3 separate regions of the Homo sapiens genome follow, and regions 1 and 3 are each linked to region 2. The links come from fine-mapping of genetic effects on gene expression. A gene starts in region 2. Each other region holds a variant in brackets. All regions are shown on one strand. Distances are from middle to middle.

Region 1 (6,279 bases), 66 kb before region 2:
TGCTTTTTCTTTTCTTTTTTCTTTTTTGAGACGGAGTCATGCTCTGTCGCCAGGCTGGAGTGCAGTGGCACAGCCTTCCGAGTACCTGGGATTACAGGCGCCCACCACCGCACCTGGCTAATTTTTTTTTTAGTAGAGATAGGATTTCACCATCTTGGCCAGGCTGGTCTCAAACTCCTGACCTCATGATCCACCTGCCTTGACCTCCCAAAGTGCTGGGATTATAGCATGAGCCACCGCACCCGGCCCATTCTGCTTTTTCACTGCAGTCATTTCTGTTTGTTTTAGGCCTAACATTAAACTGTGAGCTCTTAGGGGCAGACTCCATTTCTGGTACATATTTATACATTCTTGCAGCCCTGTCAGTGTCCTGTGGGAGGAAGACTCCATTATTTAACAGTCAGCTCTAAGCAGAGTGAGGTAGCCGGGAGAACTCCAGGCTGACCCCTGGCTCCAGGACGAGCCTGTAGCACCCATGGCTTCATATATGGAAACACATGAAAAGGACATCAGAATAACTCCTCTCCAGCCACTGCCAGCCCATGTCAGTTACCCAGGCACAGCTGCTAGGAATGCCCACACCCAGGCAGGGGCCTATGCCTGGCTGCTTGGTCCTGTGGCCTTCTCTTCTCCAGTGACTTCATCCTCCATCCCCCCAGTGACCCCCAGCCACTCTCTCCCTGGTCACACCCCAGACTCTTGGCCAGCAAGCACTCTGTCAGCTCCACTCCAAGCAGCTTCCTCTCTGAGCGTCCCTCTCATCTTTCTAACTCTGGCCTGGAGGTGTATGGACTCCCAACTTGGACCATGCTTTGCCCATCCTGTTGAACCTGCCGTTCCCTGTGTCCATTTCCTCGTCCACTGGAGCCAGCGTCGAGCCCATGGTCTGTCCTCTAGTCACTCCCTGGCATGCAGCCCAGCTCCCCGGCCTCTCTCTAGCTGCTGGACAAACCAGAGCTGGGCGAGTGCAGCTCCCTGCTGGCTCTGAGCCTGCACCGTCCAGGTGTGGCAGAAGCCCAGCACACAACCACGGCCACTCCCCTCCCTTCAGGTCCGCATGGGCTCTTGATGCTGTTGAGGAAACCCCTGCTTTCCAAGCCTTCAAGCCTCCCCTTTCCTCACACCTGCCTCCCACCTTTGCTCCCCACTAGGGGCTGACCATCTGAGAAAAAGAAGCTCCATAAGAGACCGTTCACAGCCCTGCTCACGTCTCCCCAGCTGTGCTGCACTGGCCACAGACTCTGCCTCCTCTCCGGTCACTGGAGGAACTGCCCACACACTCCCCGTGCGCTGGCTGCTGTCCTCCCCACTGCAAGGACTTGGCTCCAGCGAGTGCCCCCTTCCCTCCAGCCCATCTTGGAGTCAGCCTGAAGTCTTCTCCACCACCTGCCTTCAGGATCCATCCTGAATCTGACAGCGGTCATCTGCCATCACTTCTCACACCTGCTCTGCCATCACCGAGGTCTGCGTCACCTTTACTCTCACCTGAATCGCTGCAAAGCCCCCAATGGCCTTCCTCCTCCCTGTCCATTCATTCTCTCCCAGTGGCCGGCAAGCCCAGTCTCATCACATCACTCTTCACAGAGCCCTGCGATGGCTTCATGGCCATCAGAGGAAGCAACACTCAAGGCTTGACAATGATGACAATAACAAGTGACAGGTGGTTCAGCATGGCCTGGGCTTCCTGCTCTCTGTCCCGTCCCCCTCTAACCCCCTCCTGCTCTTGCCAGCAGCCTGCCACTGTGGCCTTGCTATTGCAGACAATCTCTGTCTGCTCTGCCCAGCAGGCCGACCCCCTCTCACCCCCTAGAGCCTGCCGCCCCTCCAGGCAGTTCCCCGTCCTCCAGAGTGCGGGTCCTCCCCACAGCCCACACGTCTATGCATTTGTTCTGTTTCCTGTCAGTTCTCGCTGGCAGGGCGGGGACTTCTGTTCTATTTGCTGCTGTTTCCCCCAATGCCTAGGACGGTGCCTGGAACATACAAGATGCTCAATAAATCCTTGTTGAATGAAAATAAATGAAAAAAAAAATGTGCTAAAAAAATACTGGTTTAAAGTAAGTAACAAAGAGAGTTTCCCTCACTGATTGAGTGTCTGGGCAGTGAGGGGTGGTAACACAGTCCAGTCCCAGAGGCAGATGGACCCTGACAGCCACTGGCTCATTCTGGGACCAGGGACCAGGTCTCCACCGCTTGGGGCTCATCTCCTTGCTGTGACTCGCGGGTGCCACCGTCAGCCTCAGAGGCCCTTAGCACAGTTAAGGAATGGTCTGTCCAGCACCAGGCCCAGAGCCAGGCACACAGAAGGCCCTCAGGTCAGAGTGTCTCTGGGACTACAATCCCTGGCAGGTGGCTAAACCCTTACCCACCTCAAAATACATGAAAGATTGGTTTTATGTCTAACTTCATATAAAATTGGTCAATGAAACAAGGCTTGGCTATTTTCTGAAAACTGAATTAATAACCTTGGTACCACTCTTCCCTTTCAGTAGCATTATTTGAGAAATCAAACCATGAATTTTACTGTGTTTTGCTCCAATCAAAACCCAATTAAGTCATTTCCAGATCATGTCTGGAAACTTTTCTCACTGGCTCTTTTTGTCTGATGAAATCCCAGTGGCAGGAGCATGGGGAAGGAGGCAGGTAGACGTGAGCTTCCTAAGCAAACGTGTCCTCCCTGCTGGGCCAAGAGACAGGTTGACGTGAGCCTCCTGAGCACATGTGTCCTCCCTGCTGGGCCAGGAGGCAGGTGGACCTGAGCCTCCTGAACACGCGTGTCCTCCCTGCTGGGCCAGGAGACAGGTGGACCTGAGCCTCCTGAACACACGTGTCCTCCCTGCTGGGCCAAGACACAGGTGGACCCGAGCCTCCTGAACACGCGTGTCCTCCCTACTGGGCTGCAGGGGCAGGGGCAGGGCCTGGGAGGTGGGTGACCAGGACTTGCTGAAGATGACAGACCAATTTTTTTTGTTATAGCTGCCAGTGAAAACAACTAGAATGAGTGAGAAGTGCCATTTCCCAGCCTCTACAGAGCCTGACTTACCATCCTGCAGATAGATTTGGCATCCTCTGAAAACTTCTCAGAATACTCCTCGGTATCATTCTTGATTCTTTGATCGACCTCCTCCCATTTGACTTTCTCTTTGTATTTTTTGAATGGAGAATGTCCCTGAATCATTTCATAGATCAGACAGCCAAGTCCCCACCAATCGGGACTAAACGTATACTTTTCATTATTGACAACTTCAGGTGCTACATAACAAATACAGGAAATGGAAATTAAGTTAAATTTTGATTTTAAATTTTCTTATAATTCCCAGTAACACAGTATACATTCAACGTGTGTGACAACATGGACGAACCTTAAAAACATTATGTTAAG[G/T]CTGGGAGCGGTGGCTCACACCTATAATCCCAGCATTTTGGGAGGCGAAGGCAGGCAGATCACCTGAGATCAGGAGTTTGAGACCAGCCTGGACAACATGGTGAAACCCTGTCTCTACTAAAAATACAAAAATTAGCCAGGTATGGCGGCAGGCGCCTGTAGTTCCAGATACTCAGGAAGCTGAGGCAGGAGAATCGCTTGTGCCTGGGAGGTGGACGTTGCAGTGAGCCAAGATTGTGCCACTGCATTCTAGCCTGGGCGACTGAGTGAGACTCTGTCTCAAAAAAAAAAAAAAGTTGTGAAATTAGATGGTGGTGATGGTTGCATGACTCTGTGAAAATACTAAAATCCGTTGTATTACACACTTCAAACTGGTGGACTTGATGATATATGAATTATATCCCAATAAAGCTAATATTTTTAAACATTTGTATGATTCATCCAAGATGAGCTGAATTGCCACAGAGTCACATTCACAAGGGAAATGGTGGTCTAGGGAAGGCTCCACCTCCTGAAGGGGCTCCCTCCAGACACACAGAGCCATGCCCAGGGCGCCCCAAGTGTCACGTCTTGCCATCTATCCCAGGGCAGTGAAAAACCCCACAAGACGCAAGAGCGGAAAGCCACAAGACCTTGGGGTCTTCCTGCAGGACTCTGCGAGGCTCTCAGAGGCCACCCCTGGGGGTTGGCTGGCACTGCCCCCGGATCTTTGGAATAACCAGAGTGGGGTGATTTCCTGAGGCTCCGAGAGGCCGTGGTGCACAGGGGAGGACACTGGTAGAGTGAGGAGACCTGCGGTGTCATCCCGATTCTGCCCTCACTTCGCTGAGTGACCTCAGGACTCACAACCTCTCAGGCCTCACCCCTCATCTGTAAGAAGCTGAGGGCAGCCTACAGGATCCCCAGCAGCCTCAACACTCTGACAGGTTAGAGATTCAAAACACCACTGCGCCATCTACTAGTGTGTCCAAACCGAGGCCCCGGTCCATTCAGGGTGGATTTCTCTGTGTTCTGAGGCACTCAGGCACCCGGATAGAAAGGACAAGGACGCCGAAAGCCTCTCACGAACCCATGTAGCCGACTGTTCCAACTCTTCCTCGAACCCTCTGTCCTTCTGGGATCTCTGTGGCCAAACCGAGGTCTGAAATCCGGATGTGTCCTGTGTGTTCAAATATGTTATTACACAGGTCACGGGGGAAGTAATGACACCGTAACAACAATTAAAATGGGAAAAAAGGCCCCTCAAAAACCATGGCTGGAAATAATAGCATTTCATACTCTGGAACAGTAAACGTAAAATGGCATTTAACTTTTTCATGTTTAGTAAAATTCCATACAATGCATTTTCACTAGCAGCAGGAAAATTCGATTTTTGCCTGGCTATTGATCAGGAAGCCCTTTAATCATAGGCCACCACTTGATAAGACAGAAACACTGGATTTATTATTTTATGTCATACAACTTCCAGGTACATCAATAAAAATATAATGAATATTATATCAACTACAGAACAGTAAATAAATACTTTCTGTCAGAGTACCAGTACTATACACAGGGACAGCTACACATGAATGATATGGAGTTATTCTCTTGAGAACAAATGGTAATAGAGTCAGGGAAATAATAAACAAAATTAAGGTACTTAGGGAACTATATTATGTGTTAATGCGTTGAATATAGAAGGATTTAAATATTTGTTGAATTCCTATGGAACTAACAAATTAGGCCAGACACGGTGGTTCACACCTGTAATTCCAGCACTTTGGGAGGCCAAGGTCGGAGGATTACTTGAGTTCCACATTTTGAGACCAGCCTGGGAAACATGACAAGACCCTGTCTCTATAAAAAAAGATTTTTAAAAAAATTAGCTGGGTGTGATGGCACATGGCTATGGTCCCAGCTACTCTGGAGGCTGAGGCAGGAGGATCGCTTAAGCCCAGAAGGTCGAGGCTGCGGTGAACCATGATCACACCACTGCAGGGCAAGAGTGAGAATCTGTCTCAAAAAAATTATAAAGAAAATACGAAATTATCGAAAACATTCTGTTGAGTGTGTAGAAAGATTAGCCAGCCCTGGAAGCGGACACTATCTTCAACTTATTCACCACTTATCCTCAGCTTCTAATATCATACCCTGGCCTACAGTAGGTGCTCAATAAATATTTATTGGTGAAATGAATGAATAACCAATAAATGTTTGCTAAAAACTAAAAATATGCGACATGCCCTCCAAGGCACTGTAGTCATTTTAAAACAGTCTGCATGATGCTTTAGAGAGGAAAGCCGGCCTCTGACTCAGATGCATGCACGTGATACACCACACCCCGCCCTTGCTGCGCGCCCACCCTGGGAGGCGGGAGAGCACAGGGGTGAGGAGCACAGACCCAGCCCGATGGCGTGGGTCTGAGTCCTGGCTCTGCCATGTACTATCATGTCTCAGTTTCCTCCCCTTGTACAGATGCATTCTTTCAATAATCCACATTTCATTTTCTTTTCTTTTCTTTTGTAGAGACAGGGTTTGGTCATGTTGCCCAGGCTGGTCTTGAACTCCTGGGCTCAAGCGATCCTCCCACCCTGGCCTCCCAAAGTGCTGGGATTACAGGCGTGAGCCACCGTGCCTGGCCAGCTTTCGTGTATTTTTCATTTAAGTAGAGTGCTAACATGTTGTGACTTATTTTTTTCGTATCATTGTCTTATTTTTCTTATAAAAATGGATTTTTAAACTGAGAAATGCAACTTAAAACTACACTGAAATACCAATTCCCAGCTAACAAACTGACAAAAACTCCAAAGTTCGAGAACTCGGTCTGCTGGCGAGGCTGTGGGGAAACAGGTGCTCTCGTGCACTGCTGGTGGGAATGCAGACGGGAAACACCCTGGAGCGGAATCTGGCAATATCTG
Region 2 (6,279 bases):
AACTCTTGTGCTACGTTCATTCATTTCAAAGGTTAATTTTCTAGTATATGAGCCAGTGAAGCTAAACAAGGAGCTGTCCATGAAGTTATGTGTCCAAGAAGACACCTCCTGGTACTTCCTGGGAGATACTTTAAAGTAACAAACACAGTCATCAACTTGGGAAAAAGCCCTAAATTATAACCAATACTCAGCATGTATCCATGTATATCTAATATTATATATTCAACTTCTCTAACCATTAATCAAGCTATACATAATGATGCTTTCTGACCACAGGAGCAAATACTCTCACTCAATGGGGACAGGCCTCATAATCACACTACTGTGGAGTTAATATGAGATATTTCAGGGAAAAAATTAAAACTTTCTTTTTTTTTTTTTTCGAGACGGAGTCTCGCTCTGTCACCCAGGCTGGAGTGCCGTGGCGCGATCTCGGCTCACTGCAAGCTCTGCCTCCAGGGTTCACGCCATTCTCCTGCCTCAGCCTCCCATGTAGCTGGGACTACAGGCGCCCGCCACCACGCCCGGCTAATTTTTGTATTTTTAGTAGAGACGGGGTTTCACCATGTTAGCCAGGATGGTCTCAATCTCCTGACCTTGTGATCCGCCCGCCTCGGCCTCCAAAAGTGCTGGGATTACAGCTGTGAGCCACCGTGCCCGGCCAAAACTTTCATTTTTCAAACTATCACTGTGGTCTTAGGTTTTGTGACAGAATCTGGTTTTATGTTATTTAGCATTTATAGAGCACTTGTATTTATCTCATTATCTAATCTCTGCAGCATTATAAGGAAGGCGGCTTGGTATAGTTCCTTTTTGTAAATTACATGCAGATAGGAAGGTAGTGTAAAAAGAAAACTGGCTTAGCTTCAATCTGACTTCCACTAAGGATGATTATTTTCCATGACCTATTTGGAGTTCACAGTCAGGGATAAGAGGCACAGTCAAATGCTCCACTGAAAATGGCTGCTGAGAACGCATACTGCTCTGGGACTCCCTGATTATCTTAAGGGAAAAAGATCCCATTCTCTTCCCACCCATTCTCAGTTCTTCTATTCAAAATAGTGTGAGTTGGTGCACAAAAATACTGAGAAGATGAAGTCTTTGTTTTAGACTTTTTTAAAGAGATGGTCTTGCTGTGTTTTGCCCAGGCTGGACTCTCCTGGGCCCAAGTGAGCCTTCCACCTCAGCTTCCAGAGTAGCTGGGACTACAAGCGTGGCCGCCACCTTCGGCTCCAGACTGTCCTTTAAATATGCATCGCCGGCTGCTGTGGCATCTTCAGTCGGCATTTACACTGTCCTGGAGCACAGTCCGAGCAGAGCTGCTCCATCACGCAAGGAAATAGAGGAAATCAGCAATTCCGTAAGAGTGACGGGGTGTGAAGAACTACCGTGGCTAGCACAGGGACTTGAGGTCCGAGGCTCTGTCGCCAGCTCTCTTGAGACGCAGGCAAGGGAGACATGAGGTCCGAGACAGAGGATTGCACAGAGGATTGTGGGGGTCTCCCGCTGAAGGGCTGGACCAACTGATGCTTTTGTGGCGGGATGCAGAGGACTAGAGAGACCAGCATGGGTGAAAACAGGAGGATATTTATGTTAAGGTACGCACCAGCTCAGTGGATTCACATCCAAAAAGCTGAGCCTTGAACAAAGACTAAGCAGGATTTTTATAAGCAAACTTACAGAAGCAAAACAAAGGCAGTTAATCATATAATGACAGGTCACATAATCTATAGCATAACTGATGACTTGGCATAACTTGTGGCCTTGCATAGCTGGTGGCCTTGTAGCTGCGTTGAAAGAAAAAACCAAGAACTGGCTAAACACAGATATTTGTCCTCTTTTTTTTTTTTCTTCACCCCTGCTCTGGAAGGGGGGTGTCTGGAGCCTATTCCTTTGGATTCGACTTCTCAAACAGAACAGCGTTATCTTATAACTGTCCTTAAAGTGAGCTTGCTAAGCAAAAGAAAACTTGTTCTTCTTTTCTTTTTAACCCTTGCCTTGCCACATTCTGGGCCTTGGCTTTTTCTTTTCTTGGAGTGAATGAATGCAGTACTTATTACTATTTTTAAATTTCTGCCTCACTTTAATAATGATAAAAGGCTGAATTTTTGCCAACTTGTCCATCTGTGACCACGTCGTGCTAAAGCACACTTGACACACCATAGAGCCTCAGATCAAACCTCAAAACCAAGCAGCTATGTTAAAAATAACATTGCCCTACAATCATTATCGGAAGGTTCTCGCCCAGAGTAGTTCCCAGGCTGCTATTCTTTGTCCCCCTTAAGACCATAAAGACGCCGTTCTTTTTTGGTGGGACAGGTTGTCCAACACAAGCAGGACACTGCCTGCCGCATCCTGAAGCAACACTGTCACCGAGGTCACACCGAGAGGACAGGACAAGGACACAGGGCAAGACTAAGAAGAGCAAAGCGCAGACTTCTCTCATCTGGGCCAGGAGATGGGGACTGGGACCTGGCCCGGGCAGCCTGACCACACTGCACAGACCCCGGCTCCGGCTCCGTGCAGATCTGGGTTCCCCCAGTGGGAGGTGTCGGGGCTCTCCAGGGAAATCGGGGTTCTCCGGGGATGTCGGGTTCCTTCAGGGGGGCCAGGGTTCCCCGGGATTCGGGGTTCTCTGGGGGGGGGGTCGGGGGCGCCTGCCGCGCACCCACCTTGACGCGCTTTCAGCAGCAGCGAGTTGGCCACGATGTTCTCGAGCTCCATGTCCTGGCGCCGCCGCCGCCGGCGGATTCTGCGAGACCGAGGAGACTGAGGAGGCGGAACAGGAGGAGACGCCGCCGCCCCCGTGCATAGCTCGCCGGGCACCACCCTCTCCTCGAGCTCCGGACACGATCCCGGGAGGCTGCTCCGCCGCCACCACTGCCACCAAGGGCGCCGCCGCCGCCGCCTCCGCAGGCCCTCACCAGCAGGGGAGCGGTCGGGGCGAGGGGAGGGGGCAGCCCGACCGCGGCGGGTCCCAGCTGTCACCGCTGCCGCGCTATCGCCCCGGTTCTTCTTGGCCCCATCGCCCTCGCCTCGCGCGCGCAACTCCCTCCTCAGTGCCCTGCCCCCGGGCAGCCCCGAGTCAATGCCGTGGCTCACTTCGGACAGGGGCTCACTGGCAGGGGCGCCCGCCGCGGCCGGCGACCCGCTCCCGGGCGGGCTCGGCGCTAACGGCTTAGCTGAAGAGGGAGCGCCCCTCGCCGCCGCGGCCGGGGCACTACAGCTCCCAGAAGGCCCTGCGCCAAGAGTACACGGCGGGCCGCGGCGCGTGGCCTGCTGGGAGTTGTAGTCGCTGAGCCTATCGGCGAGTAAGCCGAGCCTGCGGGCGCGGTGTTTACTTCTCGCGAGTCGGAGGTGCTGCGCTGTTCTCGCGAGACGAGGAAGCGGTTCCGCGGCCCGGCACGTGTCTTAGGGTAGCGCGCGCCTGTCTCTCTTCGGGTCTCGGGCCCTTGGGCGCAGCGGGGCGCGCGCCATGGCGAAGGCGAAGAAGGTCGGGGCGCGAAGGAAGGCCTCCGGGGCGCCGGCGGGAGCGCGAGGGGGCCCGGCGAAGGCCAACTCCAATCCGTTCGAGGTGAAAGTTAACAGGCAGAAGTTCCAGATCCTGGGCCGGAAGACGCGCCACGACGTGGGACTGCCCGGGGTGTCTCGCGCACGGGCCCTCAGGAAGGTAAGCGGGGGGCGCACGGGGAGCCGGAAGGCAGGATCTGGACCCCACGCTGCTCTCGGCCGGCTGCGTCCTTCTCGGTGCGTCGGTTTCCTCGTTGAGCGGCACAGGCCGTGACAGGCACACGGCACTGACTTGATAGTCCGAAAGCCTCTGCTGTTCTCTGAGCTGGAGTGACCTGGAAACTCTCGCCGTCTTGGAGACCCTGCACTCGTGTTATTTCGGCGACTCCTCCAACCGGGTCAGGCCGAGTCAGTCACTTCGGGCGGCGCCCTGGACCAAGCTGCTTGTTAACCCTTCCGCGTTTACTTTGAGCTCTGCAGGTTTGGGGACGGTGGATAGGGGCTGTGTAGGATGCTGCGTTTGATGTTTCATCGGCTCTCTCCCGAAGCGCGTAACCTTGTTCCTTGGGAAGTAACTCTATGGAAACTCATTGCTTCCTAGTTTTTTTAACTTTTTTTTTTTTAAATTTTCACTGAGGAACATACATTAGCAGGTTGGTGAAAAAATTAAGGCACAGAAAGGACAAGTGCATTTCCTAAGGTCACGCACCTGGTAAGGGCTGGGCATGCATTCACATTTCAATATCTACAAAGCCTTCTTGCTACCCCGAGCGCTTCTGTTTGACCTCGCTTCTAGGTTCGGGGAGATAAAGGTAAATAAGACTTGCCCTTGCCTTCATGAGCTCCTGATCTCTGTTCATCACAGTGTGCAAGCTGGATGGTCTTTGAATCAAAACACATATTATCCTTACTGCGCGAAGACGACAGCCTGTATAATGAATAGGCAAGATAGACTTACAGCTGACTTCGATAGGAGTCCCTCATTACACACCCCCGGGCCGGGGTGGGAGAATAAGGTAGTGTGGTTCCCTAGAAGAGACACATTTGTCTTCACCACTGAAGCCTCAGTTTTCTCATTTCAAAAGTAGAGATGATAGTATACATCCTACCCCTCGTGGTGGTTTGTGAGAATTAAGTAAGATAGCACATAGAGCACACAGCAAGTGTTCTCTAAATACTGTTATTCTTAACCTTCTTGGCTTGTCGTTCGAGTCCCGCACAGTCTGGCTGTTGTCCTTGCTTCGCCTCTTGCAACTCAGTTTGTCCAAAAGGTCTGCCTTACCTCCGAAAGTCTCTAAAGGGCCAGCTCAGGTTCACCACCCAAGCTATGTAACCCAAATAGGACAGGTTGCTCAAACTTCTGGTATTGAGCAGATCCACCTCCCTGCCCTGTGCTGAAGGCCTGGGACGGGGACGGGAATTGCTGCTCCTTTTTGGATCTCCAATGCTTGGCCCTTGGAAGAAACACAAATATTTGAAGAAATCAAAGATGGAACCTGAGTGCCTTAGGAGATCCCGGTCAGGAAAAAGTGTAATAGTTAGGAAAGTCCAAAAATTCTTCTAGAGGGAGTTACAGTCAAGTTTTGCAAGGGGAGTGAGCTGTTCATGGGCCCAGGGTGGGCAGAGGACACACATGCAAAGGCACATTGTCCCGGTATGGTGAAGTGTGGCACTCACAGCTGTCTGAGGGACAGCAGGTCGTCCAGTTGACTCCAAGCTTGATAACGCGTGTAGGGGCCGTGAGGCCGGCGCAGGAGGCCTGGGTCTTTTCATGTGGGTTAGTCCCTTAGAAGTAAACAGGCTGCCTCAGTTGGCTTCTCCCCTCTGGTCAGTTGTAGCACTCTGAGGCACTCAGTCTGGCAGGAAGAGGGCAGCCCCCAGGTGCCAGTCTCAGGACATTGCTTTATAGCTGTGCCTCAGTTTCCTTATTTCTGAAATAATTTATAAAATAAGTTATATTAATGTAGTTCTTAAATCAGTAACTATATTAATATAGTTACTATATATTAATATACTAACTATATTATTAATATAGTTACTATATATTAATATACTAACAATATTAATATATTAATATATTATTATAATATTAGCATATTAATATATTATTGTAATAGCATATTAATATATTATTATATTAGTATATTAATATATTATTATAATATTAATATATTATTAAAATATTAATATATTATTATAATATTAATATAGTATTAATATAATATTGATGTAGTATTAATATAATATTGATATAATATTAATATAATAATATTGATATAATATTAAAATAATATCGATATAATATTAATATAATATTGATATAATATTAATATAATAATATTGATATAATATTAAAATAATATCGATATAATATTAATATAATATTGATATAATAATATAATAATAATGTAATTATAATATTAATATATTGATAATGTGATTATAATATTAATATATTGATAATGTGATTATAATATTAATATATTAATATTAATGTGATTATAATATTAATATATTAATATTAATGTGATTATAATATTAATATATTAATATTAATGTGATTATAATATTAATATATTAATATTAATGTGATTATAATATTAATATAATATTAATATAATAATATATAGTAACTATATTAATAATATAGTTACTGGTCCCTTACAGTTGGTCAGGCCTTGTGCCACACGGTTTACATTTAATCCTCACCGTTATGAGGGGGAAGTACTGTTATCCCCATTTTATGCCGTAAATTCCATATGATGTCAC
Region 3 (6,279 bases), 350 kb before region 2:
AAGTCTGGGTCCACCATGAACACGTGGCAGGAAGTCCGCAGGGCGCCCTCCTCCTCCTGGGCCAGGCTCCCGTCGTCATTCGTCTGCATGGTAACCAACCCGAAAAATCGCCGGTCGTCCGGGCACACGGCGCTGAAGGCCAGCTTCTCGGCCGGGTACTCGGCCACGACTCCAGCCTTGTCAGTGCTCAGCTGCACACAGTCGTGCATGATCTTCATGGTCACCAGCGAGTGGATTTTCTGCTCTGCCCGCAGGCGCCGCATGCAGCCGCGGATGGCTTGCAAGCTGTCGGACTCCAGGTTGGAGCTCGTGGAAGGAAGCTCAATGGAGCCTAAGTAGCCCACGATCATCGCCACGTTTAAAATACTTGCATCCAATGCAAAATCGTCATGACTTTCTAGTCCAATGCTGAAAACCGAATCATCATGAATAACTTTTGATATTTCCTCCTTAGAAAGCATGTTGGGATTTGGATTATTTATACTTTCATGTCCAACATCAAATCGAGTTGCGGCCGACTCTGAAAGGGATCTTTGTTTCAATTTCAAGGGCTCTGAATTGCTCGCACAAAGGCTCGGGTTTTCAAAAATCATATTGAAAATTCCACCAGACTGCATTTCCTCCACGACTCGCTCTGCTCTGTTTATACCTAGTGCTTTAGAATCCAGCTTGGGCTTCAGCCAGCCTTTTCCTTCATAGAGTCCCCCTTCTTCATCACTGGAACAGGATTCGAAGCGGCCGACGCCTTCAGCAATCACCATGTGAAGGACACCAGAGCACTTCCCAATTAATTTCACTACATCTTCATGAGATGCTTTTTTCACGTTGATTTCATTGACAGCAAGTATCTGGTCTCCAGCTCGGAGGCCCACGAAATCCGCAGGGCTCCCTCTCATGACGCAGCTGAGCACACAGGGTGCCTGTCCCGAAAGCGTGAATCCGTAGCCGGCCCTCCCCCGGGCAACCTCCACACTCCGCACCCTTGGGGGCGACGGCCCAGGCAATGGGCGTTTGGAGGCCTCCCCAGCTCTAAACATTCTGATGAGCTTCCAAGACCAAGAGCACGTCTCATTGTTCCCTTGGAGCCATATTTCAAGGAATGCTTGATGCTACCATGTTTGCTTCTTCAAACAGTGCCCTAAGAAAGAAAAACGAACAGCTCATTATTAAAGAGCCCATCTTTCTCCACCACTCACTGGTATTAGCTAAACACAAAAAGATAATTCATAATAAAAACCACCACAGAAAGAGCCTCTAAGTGTCTATAGATAATAAATCTTCAAGTCAGGCTAAGAAACTTCCTTTCGGAGTAGAAAATGTCTCCCACAACTGCTACCTTGTTACCACACAAGTTCCTGCCAGGCCCACCTGCCACGGGTGTGAGGATGCAGGACTGCTTCCCAGCACTGCTTCCACACCCTGTTTGGATGGAAAGAGCCCCTTGCTACTCAAAGTGTGGTCCGTGGACTGGCAGCCCGTCTGAAAGGCAGACTCTCGGGCTCCACACAGAAGAAACACACCCAAACCCACGTTTCACAGGATGGCAGAGTCCAAGCGTGAGAAGCAAGGCCTGCTACAGGCTTCAGGTTCAAAGGCACCTGCAGAACACTGAGTCTAACCCCTTAGTTGATCATAAATCCCCTGACATAGAGTTTTCCCTCAGGAGAGGGGTCACCTAATATTCCATGACCCTCCCACATTAATTTATTTTGAATATACTGTGTGGGGGAAAACGTATTAGCCTGAAACAACCTCGATCAATACTGCAGAGGCCACTCAACAGGCTAGATAAAAACCACCACCTAAAAAAGCAGAAATGTCATATTAACTCAATTCTTCCAGGGGGTATAAAAGTATTGGTTGTCATTGAGAACAAACTTGTCAGTGGTCCGCGGATCACCCCCAGGCCAGTGATTCCCTAGGATTCCCAGGACTTGGCACAAAGGTGCTCTCACAGCTGAGATTCATTACAGCGAAAGGATTCCACACAAAATCAGCAAGGGCAGAGGTCCATGGGGCGATGTCCCAAAGAAACCAGGCTTGAGCTTCCAGAATCCTCTCCCAGCGGGGTCACGCAGGACGCACTTAACTCCCTACACAGTGAGCCGTGACAACGCATGTGCAGTGTCGTCACCAGGGAAGCCCACTAGAGACTCGGTGCCAGGGTTTTTACTGGGGGCTGGGCACATGGGCACCCTCTGCCTGCTTCGTGCCCAGACTCTGGACTCCCAGAAGAAAGGAAGGTTCTCAGCACAAACCTTGTTCCCCACACAAGCAGCTAAGCACAGGGAGCCCCTCTTCATTGAGGGTGGTGGGCACCGTCCTGACACCAGCGGGGGGCCAGCCTTGCACACAGGCCTCTCAGGATGGTCTCGGGCCTGCTGTGTAGTCTCTTCTGCAAGACTCTTTAAAGATCACTTTAAAAAGCAATACAGTAAGTGATTGTGTTGTGAAGACACAAAATAGAATAGAGGGTATGTTTTTTTAAAGAAATAATTGTTTTAGGCCAGGTGCGGTGGCTCACGCCTATAATCCCAGCGCTTTGGGAGGCCGAGGCAGGTGGACCACGAGGTCA[G/A]GAGATCAAGACCATCCTGGCTAACACGGTGAAACCTTGTCTCTACCAAAAATACAAAAAAAATTAGCTGGGCATGGTGGCGGACGCCCGTAGTCCCAGCTACTCGGGAGGCTGAGGCAGGAGAATGGCATGAACTCGGGAGGTGGAGCTTGCAGTGAGCCGAGATCGTGCCACTGCACTCCAGCCTGGGTGACAAAGCGAGACTCTGTCTCAAAAAATAAAATAAAATAAAATAAATAATTGTTTTAAAGTTAATAACTTCTAATAGAAAAGATTTTTGTGTCTTGGGATAAAGTTTCCAGCAATAGGATCATAAACAGATTTGAAGTAATTTACACACATAAAAGCTACAGAACTAGATAGAGTGGAAAGGCTATTACTAGGTGACTCCAAAAGTGGCTTCAGTGATGACAAAACACGGACACAGAACATGCGTACTTAGTAAAATTATGTTTTGATGGAAAAGAGTAAAAAATGAATATAAATTACATTACTCAATATCTAAGTAGTACTGTATTAATAATTTAAATATTAGGACTGGGCATTTAACTATTTAAAATCATTAAAAAATGAATTTAAAAAATAAAATAATTAAAATTATTTTATAATTTTTTAATAATTAAAAATTATTAAAAATCATCATTAAAAAATAAATAAATAAATGTAAAAGTTGGCCAAGAAACACGTCTGGGGATCGATCTTCTTAAGAGGTGTGACAGGCTGGCTGATGGCCCCTGATACACCCACATCCTCACTCCCAAGCTTTTGGATGGCTCCTCCCATCCACGTGACCACGTGAAGGCTCTAGAGATGGGGAGAGTGTGGGGTGCGCCTGTGTGAGCCTGGGGTCAGAGCCAGAGGGGACGGCCACATGAGGAAGGATGCGGAGACTGCAGGGATTCAAGGATGGGTCTCGAGCCCAGGCAGACGGGCAGGCGGTCACCTCCAGAAGCCGGAAAGGTGAAGGAAGCAGACTTAAAGTCACCAGAGGAACCAGCTCTGCCACACCTGCCATCAGCCAGGTCACACTGACTGCAGACACGAGGCCCCCGAAAACGCAGGAGAATGAATGTGTGTTGTCTTAAGCCCCCCAGTTTGCAGTAATTTCTTTCAGCAACCCCAGGAAACAAATACAAGGGGGAATCACTTTGTCACGGGTGAGGGGAGAGGGAAAGCAGGACATGCGTGAAACGGTCTCACTAAAGCACGCTCAGAAAAGCATCTGTCACACAACAAAGGTGCTGCTGTTCCCGGCAAGTGCCAGCTATCACTGTGAACAGCCCCAGGACAGCAGGTCATGAAGCCTTGATGGCTTCCTCGGGGAACAGAACACCTCTCGGCTTTCTCTTCCAAACAGGAATAGATGCTGCCTCAATGAAAGACATGACTTCCCAGTTTATTCGCACCATCCGCCTCACACTGTGTGACATAATGATGGACAATGTCTTCTATGCAGTCCACCCAATTTTTCTACTAGACTCTTACTGTCATGGGCCTCTGCTTATTAAAAAGAAATGGTTTGTAACTCATGTAAGTAATATCTTATTATCTATAATCACGTTTCTTTGTTTTTATTTTTTAGAGACAGGGTCTCACTCCATTGCCCAGACTGGAGTGCAGTGGCACAGTCATTGCTCGGTGCAGCCTCAAACTCACTCCTGGGCTCAAGCCATACCAAGCACACCCCCATACTCGGCTAACTATTTTTTTTTTTTTGGAGAAAACTGTATTGAGATATTTTAAGTCACGTATCTAATATAAAACCAGTTTGCATTGTTTCAGCTTGTCTTCCTTGGAACCTGTGGTTGCCCTTCACCTCCTTCTGGCAATTTAAATTGCTCTGATTTCGGCAGAATATTCCCCGGACATCAGGACCATCTCCACATTCATCCCAGTCTTTGAGACAGCTCCCGGAGATCAGCTTCCTGGTCAAGCACAAGAATCTCAGCAGCACCGTGATCTTCCTCTCTCTCCTGGCCAGGTAAGACCCCGACTTTCAGGTGGTGGTTCCTCTTGCTGAGGCTGCTCATCACTGGGCTCAAGCACAGGCCCAGTTAGCTCAGGAGGCTGCACATACCGTCTTGGTCTAAGCCTACATGCTGATCTTCCTTGCCAACTCATATTTCAAACGGCTGCTTCTCAGTAGTGGGTAAAGAGTCCAGAACGCAGGAACGCAACCCTCACACCCTCACAGGTCCACAGTGTTCACCACGTGGGCAAAGGGGCCAAGGAGAAGACACCCAGTGAACCTTGGCTAATGTTTTAATTTTTCTGTAGACGAGGTCTCACTATGTTGCCCAGACTAGTCTCAAACTTCTGACCTCAAGCAATCCTCCCACCTTGGCCTCCCAAAATAATCACATAAGTTCAGCTTATAGTTTAATTTTTTTTAAAACTGTATCAATTAATAGTAAAGCTAGCAGAACAGACAGTGAAATTTAGAAGACCATGGGGTACTGGATTCCAGCTGAACTTCCATTACACCATCGGGGCTACCAGTAAGAACGCCTGCTCCCAAGCCCCTGCACCTCCCAGGGACTCTGACTTAGTAAGTCTGGGGCAAGGCCAGGAAGCTCCAACTTCCCCCTACACACCTTCCAGCTAACTCTGAATCACCTTGACTGGAGATCATTTAACCCAGCCTCTTCACTGTGTGGAAAAGGGAACAAGGTCCAGCCAGAAGTAATTCATCCAAGCCCTGAGGCACAGATGGGATGTGACACGAAGGTCCCCACTCGCCGCACAGCACTGCCACCTCCCATCAGGAGTCACCGACCACGTCACACAGGCTGAGTGTCCCTTAGAAGAGATTTTTGGGACCAGAAGGGCTGTGGATTTTTTCTGATTCGGAACATCTGTATATACGTAATGAGATATGTTTGGATAGGACCCAGGTCTGAACAGGAAATTCATTTATGTTTCATATACACCTTATACACACAGCCTGAGGGTAATTTTGTGCGGTACTTTTGATAATTTTGTGCATGAAACAAGGTTTGTGTACACTGACCCATGAGAAAGCAAAGGTGTCACTAGCTCAGCTATGCCTGAGGTGCCACATCGGTGTCAGAGGGTTTCCGATTCTGGAGCATCTGGATAAGGGATGCTCAACCCGCACTGTCACTCCTTCACTCATTCATCATTAAAAACTCATGGTGTAAAGAGGACAATAAAACAAAACAAAGAAAAAAAACTCAGGGTGATCTAGAAATAAATATTGCTGCCATGACACTTTTCTATTCCCTTCTAAAGTTAAAACCTCCTATAAAAGGTCCTGTTCTGATAAACTCCTCCACTCATGCCGGGCAGCACCCAAGACCTGCAGGTACAGAGATGGGTCCTAGGCCTGAGCTACGATGCAGCAGGCCCCGAGCGAGGCAGGGCTGGAAAGACCAAGCCAGCACCCGTCCGCACTGCCCGTGCACACAGTGTGAGGCGAGAGAGACGCCGTCCTCCGAAGGCAGAGAGAGTCTGGGGGCACCGAGAAGAAGAGAGCAAGGCACAAGAACAGCACAACATCAGCAATCACGGCCTCCAGGGTGACCCCACGGGCTGCAATGGCAGCCGCCACGGCCAGGACTTGCTGTGCAGCGCATGTCATCCTAAACACCATCATCGCTCTGAGGAAGGCTCTGTTACAATTCTCGCGTGCAGATGAGGGAGTGGGGGCACAGAGAAGCTAAGTAACTTGTCTACCAGCACAC

Evidence for each region. PIP is the estimated chance that this variant, and not a neighbour inherited with it, causes the effect.
Region 1: its variant is the best candidate, but not a certain one, in a credible set for the expression of GRK4 in testis (GTEx, PIP 0.52).
Region 3: its variant is the best candidate, but not a certain one, in a credible set for the expression of GRK4 in ovary (GTEx, PIP 0.52).

What each region holds. Positions count from the first base shown.
Region 1 is chr4:3,026,171-3,032,449 of GRCh38, reverse strand. It overlaps GRK4 (G protein-coupled receptor kinase 4), which reads right to left. Exons shown (of 16, transcript NM_182982.3): 11 at 4,449-4,538; 12 at 3,041-3,249. Among named protein-coding and RNA genes, the nearest start is that of HTT, 45 kb to the left of the region's middle. The variant G/T (reference allele first, on the strand shown) is at 3,380.
Region 2 is chr4:2,960,516-2,966,794 of GRCh38, reverse strand. GRK4 (G protein-coupled receptor kinase 4) reads right to left here and starts at 3,224. Exons shown (of 16, transcript NM_182982.3): 1 at 2,673-3,224. The coding sequence starts at 2,724. It overlaps NOP14 (NOP14 nucleolar protein), which reads left to right and starts at 3,389. Exons shown (of 18, transcript NM_001291978.2): 1 at 3,389-3,670. The coding sequence starts at 3,476. RefSeq lists silencers at 2,552-2,601, 2,772-3,201 and enhancers at 2,664-3,197, 3,198-3,731, 4,762-4,831.
Region 3 is chr4:3,310,929-3,317,207 of GRCh38, reverse strand. It overlaps RGS12 (regulator of G protein signaling 12), which reads right to left. Exons shown (of 18, transcript NM_001394154.1): 2 at 1-1,138. The coding sequence starts at 1,037. It also overlaps the pseudogene LOC100286945. Among named protein-coding and RNA genes, the nearest start is that of RGS12, 21 kb to the right of the region's middle. The variant G/A (reference allele first, on the strand shown) is at 2,576.